Linked DNA regions of Homo sapiens. The protein of the gene in region 2 purifies or fractionates together with the protein of the main gene of each other region. This does not show direct contact. Each region holds a gene or a part of one and is shown on either strand. Other genes may lie near its edges.

What was found. Proteins that work in one complex are often made in the same cells at the same time.
Region 1: the proteins of NHSL2 (region 2) and FGFR1OP2 purify together in Homo sapiens (affinity purification with mass spectrometry; 2 studies listed by BioGRID and IntAct, with this or other methods). This does not show direct contact.

What each region holds. Positions count from the first base shown.
Region 1 is NC_000012.12:26,962,353-26,966,106, forward strand, and holds part of FGFR1OP2 (FGFR1 oncogene partner 2), read left to right. Parts: intron 1-989; coding exon 990-1,103; intron 1,104-2,243; coding exon 2,244-2,381; 3' UTR 2,382-3,754. UniProt on the Homo sapiens protein: May be involved in wound healing pathway.
Region 2 is NC_000023.11:72,130,691-72,134,444, reverse strand, and holds part of NHSL2 (NHS-like protein 2), read right to left. Parts: coding exon of another isoform or gene 2,905-3,754; exon of another isoform or gene 2,530-2,904; intron 2,367-2,529; coding exon 2,211-2,366; intron 355-2,210; coding exon 227-354; intron 1-226. Other genes in the region: RTL5 (retrotransposon Gag-like protein 5), read left to right, coding at 2,905-3,754.

The DNA of each region.
Region 1 (3,754 bases), on a different chromosome or scaffold from region 2:
CTGTTAAATCCTTTTTACAAATATATATATACACAACTACTGAAGAGACTGTTTATTTGGGGAGTTATTCACTTTTATATTTAAGTCTTAGGCTTAATATGATAAAATACCTCTCAGTTGCTGTGAATAATGGTCTATAGAAGCTGTTCATTGAGAAAATGATTATTCTCGAGTTTCTGTTGATTTTAAACCTTTTTTGTCTGTCTCTTTCACTAGACTGTAAGCTTCTTCAGATCAGGGGACATGTCTTGACAGTCTTTGTATTCCTGTTGTTTAGCATAGTACTGGCACATCATAGGTGTGCAAGATAAGAAAATGAGATTGGAAGAATTTATGCTACTTGCTGCGCCTAACAAATGTGGATGTCTGTATTATACTGATACTATATTTTCAATAGTTAGCAAAGAAGGCCATTTAATATTTTAATACTGAAAAGCAGAATTGTGCTCATTTTATTCAATACTTACCATATACCATACACTAGATAGTAGGTGGATGTAAAGATGCAGTTCCTGCTCTCAAAGAGGATTATGACCTAGAAAAGGTTACAGATTGGATTGAGATAACTTTATAGGCCTGAACAATACAGAAAAGATTTCTAAATCATTGAAGACTTCAGGGAGGAAAAGAGATTGAATGCGTCGGCAATTTTTATCATTCCCGTTACTTTGAACAATAGTGTATGTAAGTGCAAAAAAAAAGAAAAAGTTGCTGATCATTGTGGTGAGAGGAATGTAAAATATGAGTATTTTTCTTGCTGCTAGGTTTAGTTATATTGTGCTGCTTATTCTTAATTCTAGTCCTAACAAATTTGATTTCAAAAGCACATCTGTGGTCAACCAACTTCATTGTTAATATTTGTTTTATTCATATTAAGTGACAATGTAAGAATATTCATGTTAAGTGGTACTGCAGATTTTATAAAAAGGAGAGGATCCAAAAATAAAAAAGTATTTTGCTGATTTCCAACTCCCATCCCTCTTTTTCAGGAACTGCAAGCACATGTTGACCAGATAACTGAAATGGCAGCAGTAATGAGGAAAGCCATTGAAATTGACGAGCAACAGGGTTGCAAGGAACAAGAACGAATATTTCAACTTGAAGTAAGTTTTACATTGCAAATGTAGATGAAAACTGTCCATATAAAGATTTATGCCAGAAAATATATCCCATTTTTAAATATATATTTACTCTTCTTGGGTACTGGTAATGTTCTCCTGGATGCTGTCTATGTGGGCATATTATGCAAGACCATTTATGTGGTGATGCAAGAATCTAGGATTATTAGTAACTTACAATATACCAGTAATGTAGAAAATTGATGTTTCATTCTATATTGCTTATCTTATGAAGTGAATGTACTTCTTCAATTGAGTCATTTTTAAAATTTTGTTTATTCTATTAGAGATCATAGTGATACAGGGAAATTTTTTTTAATCCACAAATATTTAGGGGCACTCTTATTTTTCTGGGGATTCTAAAAACCTTTGTCATCTGTCCTTTATTTTATGACAGTGAAAGTACCAGTCTCTGAATAACTGAAATCAGTACAATAGACTTTTATGCCTTAAGAGCTTCATTTTGAAATCACGGCGGGGAACCTGCTTTAGACTACTAAAATTTAGAAAGTGAGACTGAAGATAAAGTGATAGAGAACAAATTATGAAAGGTTATTGTTAAATGTCTACAAATTTTTTTACAGTAACTAACCAAAAGGAGGCCAGAAAGCAAAGTTATTTACCAGTGCCAGATTTGGTCACTTACTTTCCTTCTTGAAAAATATCATCAGCTACCCCTACCCTGCTGCTCTCAAATGCCAATGAGCTAAACTTGTCCTACATTCCATGCTATCATGGAAAGTAATAAAAATACTAAAAATTACTAGGAGATTCTAGCCTATTCACTGGCTTTACGAGTTTATATAAAAATAAATCTAGATGTTATTTTCTTCATCTCTAATGTGATTGTAAAATAAGGCAATTTCTGAGCTTCTGTTTACAATTATAGCTGCTTAAGTAAGAAGGCTTTGCAGTGGTGGAAGATGTTGAACACGATTCCTAGCTGCATAAGTGTTCTTTAGATTCAAGTTGCCAACTGCATATATCATTGAGTAGATTAATGCCAATTACAGACCTTGCTTGTTTGTTATACCTTCATATGTTCAGTTTTTCCTAACATATGTTTGTGATGTTGTAGCTACCTTGTAGATAGTGACTGCATCTTTGTTTTTGCTTGCCTTTTAGCAAGAAAACAAAGGCTTGAGAGAGATCCTTCAAATAACTCGAGAATCATTTTTGAACCTAAGGAAAGATGATGCGTCGGAAAGTACTTCTTTGTCAGCATTAGTGACCAACAGTGATTTGAGTCTGAGGAAGAGCTGAAGAGTTTCTGAGTCTGTGAGCTTCTTACATGGCTCCAAATGGTCAAATAAGTGAATGAATGAATGGACAGAAAATTCAATCCTTTATTTTTTTCTCTGTAAATATGTACAGTGCACGGGCTATGAGATAGCAACAAAAAATGCATAGTTAATGGTCATAGACTTTATTCCAAAACATAATTGGAAAATAGAAACTGAGCCATTGCCAAATGGTAAAGAAATGAAAAGTTTTCACAGTGACTACTGAATATACCAAGAGCTTTTGGCAGTACTGCTGGCTTTCTGGGTGATTAATTAGGTAAACTTGAATATTCCCAGTAAATGTTTGAGAATGCATAAAATTATACCAATTTAAAAATATAAATTTTTGCCACTGTTTTGTGAACGGAGGATTTGTACGCTAAATTTCATCCTTATTTGGCGTCAAAGTTGATGCAAAGTTTATGTACCATGAGACTTCTAGTGATTGCCTACTTTCACATTTATTTAAATTTTTGTGAAAGAAAATACAGTTTTAAAGGCTATAGGAATGTGTTATATGTACCTTAAACAGATAATTTAATTTTAGCAATTTATCATAACTGATACTTAGCTAACAATTGTCCATAACTTGTTTAAGTGTAAGAAATACCATTTCAGGAATGAAAAAGAAGGAATACTACTTTCTAAGAAAGAAGATCTTATAATAGACATATTTAGTAGGTTAAACTACTCCTTTGAAAGAATAAGTTTTGGTTCAAAGTCAATAATGAAGACGAGATTTGTTTTTCTCTTCTCTGGCTGATTTTTAAGGATATTATGTAGTTCATTTAGTTAACAGAATTGAAATGTTTGATATGGCAAGATAGGTATGGTAATTTCAAAGTGAATTGGGAATTCCTCTGGCTCATAGAACCCTTTTTTTTTTCCTTTAAGTATTCTTGAGATACAAAAAAAAAAAGTAAATACAATTTCAAAAAAAAAGTTCCGGATCTGTTTTTAAGCTCCATCTGGTCCTCATAACCTGCAAGATTTTTCTTAAAACCTTTCAGCTGAAAGTGGGGGTAAAGGTGGAGTAATCTGTGGATTTGTTTCTGTTGTCTTTTAAAATGTCAAATATATAATATGTAATTTTTTTAAAAACCACCAGATACAGAAATGTGCTTTAACATCAGTTGAAACCTAAATTTTCTTATGTTGTGGTGATTGTATTAAAAAGGGATAAAAGAAGAGTGTCAAACATGGTTAAATATATTGTACTCATTTATGTTGAATACGTATTAAAATTAAGACAAATGGAAAATTATACTTTGAGTATATAATTTGTTAAATATTACTTTATATGGTAATTTTATGTATAATTTCATATATTGGTAAAATTCAAAACTACACTTG
Region 2 (3,754 bases):
GTGGCTGTTTAGGCTGGGTAGTTGGAGGCTTCGTCTGGGAGGCAGGAAAGCGTGGACAGGCCACCAGGCCAGGCACCTGCTGTGCAGGGCCTATCCCAGTGGGGCCTCAGGGTAGCTCTGCTGGTGAGCAGGGCTGAGCAGCTTCCAGTGGGTAAAGTAAGCAGCTGGAGGTCTCTTGTCAGTGGGTGCATGCTGGCTCTCCCAGGTGGGGGATGAGGCAACTCACCATCAATATAAACTCCAGACGCCTGGCAGACTGGGGCCTTGGGTTGGGGGTGGGCTTAGTGGCCTCATCAGAAGAGCGGAAGGTCTGCCCCACAAGTCTGGCCTCCGAGTACTGTTCCTCATATTCTTCTGAAAAATAGCACAGTGGAGACACACACTCTAGGGTGCCATGGCCGAGCGCTGGGCCGGGGAAGGGCCATGAGCCAGGACTCCTGCTCTAGCTGCCAGGCCTGACTTGCATTTTCTTTAGGCTATTTCCAGGTGTTTGAGCCACTGGATTTGGAAATGGAAAAGTGCTTGCTTCCCAGGACCATGAGGATCGAGGAGAAGAGAAAGTCAATAAATTCATGCTGTGGTGGTTTGGGGACCAAGCCCTTATCTCAATGATCCCCACCTTGAGTGCTCAGTTACGAAAAGAGGCTCAGAATGCAGACACCTTTTGCTACTTTGGACTGCAAGTTCCTCTCTTTGAAGCCCTGCAGCTCTTAAGGTTTTCTGCGACCCTACCAAGGAAATGACCTGTGTGAAGCAAGAAGAGATTTACACCAGGAAGTCCAATCTGGAGTTCTTTCTTGGATGTCAAGAACTTTTACTTGAGCCTTTGTGGGCCGTGTTCCCTGCACCTTAGTCCCGCTGTAAGTGATGTCAGGTCTAGGAGGGCTAAGGTGAAGGAGAGGGAAGGAGGAGGTAACAGCATAAAAGAGGCAGAAGTTCAGCGGCATCATCAGTGAGTAAGGATGCACAAGATTTGAATAGGGTTGATTGAAGTGATGAATTTGATGAGAATACATGAAGAAAGTGAGAGTAGAGAAGGGACATTCATGCTGTATGTACACTGAACAAAGACTCAGAATCACAGAGATTTGGGGTTGCTCTTGGGGTTCTTTGGTCCAACGCCTCATTCTGTGCCCAGACTCCCTCCTCAGCAGCCCTTCTAGGTGTTTCTTCAGCCTCAGCGCACACACCTGCAGGGAAGGGGAGCTCCCTCCCTCCCAAGGCAGCTCATTTCTTCCACGGACAGTTGGGGCTGTCAGGTGTGTCAGAAAGTTCTTCCTTATCTGGAGGTGGAATGTGCCTCCTTCTGGGTTTCCACCCACTGGTCCTAATTCTGCCATGGTAGCAACACAGAGCACATCGACTCTTTTTCTGTGTGGCAAGTCCTTTGTTATCTGAACACAAGGCTCATGGTGTCCCTTGGCATCTTGCTTTTCCAAGGTCACCACTGCCCTGGTAGGGGGTGGGGGTTATGGCTGTCATCCTGTTGGTGGCCCATCAGCAGTTTTCTATTCGCCATTAGAGTTAACCTTTATTAGTATAGATAAAGGAGTGCTGACAAGACCTCTTTTCATGCTCAACATCCACTGAGCACCTCTTGGCAGGTGGGGAGGGAATCCAGCCTTGTGCCAGGTGCTTCTGGAAACCTAAGGGTAGCAAGATGTGATTCTTTACATCGAGAAGCTCAGGCTTGGTTAGGGGGGACAAAATAGGTGACCTCTGGGTGCTGTGTATTGGGCTTACTTTGGTGAGGCAGTAGCTATCCAGGGGTTATTGCAAGAGCAGAGTGAGTGAAGCCCAGAGTGGGAGATCCTGCAGATGCCCCCTTTGTCTTCTGGTGCCAGGATCCCAAAGGCATGGGCGATGTGGCAAGAGGGGGGCTGGAGGGAATGTAGGCCCACATTGTGGGAGTCTCCCACCCAGCTCTCGGTGAATGGCATAACTTATGGCCCTGCCTCAGTCTCTGTCCTTGTTTCCCCATGGGCTACTGAGCTGAAAAAAGGGGCTGGGGATGGGGGGAAACAGCCCTGGAAATAGCCTCTTTCAGAATCATTAGGCTGAAAGGTGAAAGCTGGAAACTGCTTTGTCGATTGTTTTTAAACTCTCTGTCTTTATCTTGCTGGTCCCTGTCCTCTTTCTTCTTTGCCTCCCTCCTGCCGCTGCGCATCTCGCTTCTGGGCTCCGGCCGCAGCCCCCCTCCCTCTCGGTACCTTGCAACAGGCTCTGGAGATTGAGCTGCGCCTCCCGAAGCAGCTCCTCTACACTCGGGGGCCTGCCCGAGGAGAGGAACACGTTCACTGGCTGTCGCCATGACGACCTCGAGTGGGCAGTCGCTGTCGCATTTTCCCGACCCGAGTTAGCTGCAGCTAGGGAAGGAGAGAGTCAGTGAGAGGCGCAGGCGAGCTGGAGGGGAGCGGCGCGCGGCGGCCAGTGGGCGCCCGCGGTTCCCCAAGGCCCGCCCCTGCGTGGGGTGGGGGGAGTGCGAGGCTGCGCTTAAAAGGCGGGGAATCGCCGGCCGCAAGATTTTTCCTCGACAGATCCTGCCGCAGTCCGCTCCCTCCCGCTCCGCTCGCCCCTGCCCGCCCGCCCGCCCGGTCGCGCGGTCGCCGCCGCCACCGTGTCGCCCGCATCCTCCGCCTGGCGCCTCCGGGCCCCGTGCCTCCGCCCGCCCTCTCCGGCCCCGGCGACGAGGTAACGCGCCCTGGGCCGAGCCGCCGGGCCCTCCGCCCAGAGCGCCGCCCTCCGAGCTCGCCCCGGTGGGTGTGGCCCGGCCTGGCCCGTGCCCCGCTGCCGCACTTCGGTCCCTCCCGAGCCCCGCCGCCGCATTTCGGCCTCCTCCGGCCGCCCGTAGTTCCAGTTCCCCTTTCCCCACCACGGAGCCCCAGGGCCCCTGGGCTTGTCGAGATGTCTGAGGCGTCAGGAAATCTCAACAGCCTCCGCATGGCGAATGTGGCCCTGCGCGAAGAATTAAATGCCCTTCGCGGGGAGAATGCCAATTTGGGCCTCCAGCTCGGGAGAGCCCTGGCCGAGGTTAATTCCTTGCGGGGCAATGTCTCCAGCTACATCCGCTGGCCAGTACCCATAGTGCCCGTCCTTGCGGAGGAGAACTTGGAGTTCGCGCTCAGTGAGATCGAAGTCATTCCCGGGGGAGAACTGCCCTTCTTGTGCCGGCCTCCCCCACGCGCGGAGCCCGACTGTATCTCGGATGATCTTTTGATTAACGTGATCCAGGATCGCAGCACCCCCGACGGGCCCGCTGACCCCCCTCTGCTGCCCATCCCGCCCCCGCCGGCGCTGCCTCCGCCCGCGTCAAAGGAACCGCCCCCGCAACCCCCTCTGGCACCGCTGGAGCGGCCTGAGATAGAGCCCTTTTCAGGAGACCCAGTCTACCTGGCTGAATTCCTGATGCAGCTAGAGACCTTCATAGCCGACCATGAGGTTCATTTCCCCGGGGGCGCCGAGCGGGTGGCCTTTCTGATCTCCTTTTTCACTGGCGAAGCCAAGGACTGGGCCATCTCGGTCACCCAGGAAGGAAGCCCCTTGCATGCCAACTTCCCGCGCTTCCTGGATGAAATCCGTAAGGAATTCTGTGGCCCCATCCCCCCACGTGTGGCTAAAAAGGCCATTCGCAAGCTCAAGCAGGGCCACTGTACCCTCGGCAGCTATGCAGATGCTTTTCAGTTCCTGGCCCAATTCTTGTCTTGGGATGACTGCCGCCTCCAAAACCAATTCCTCAAAGGCCTGTCGGAATTCT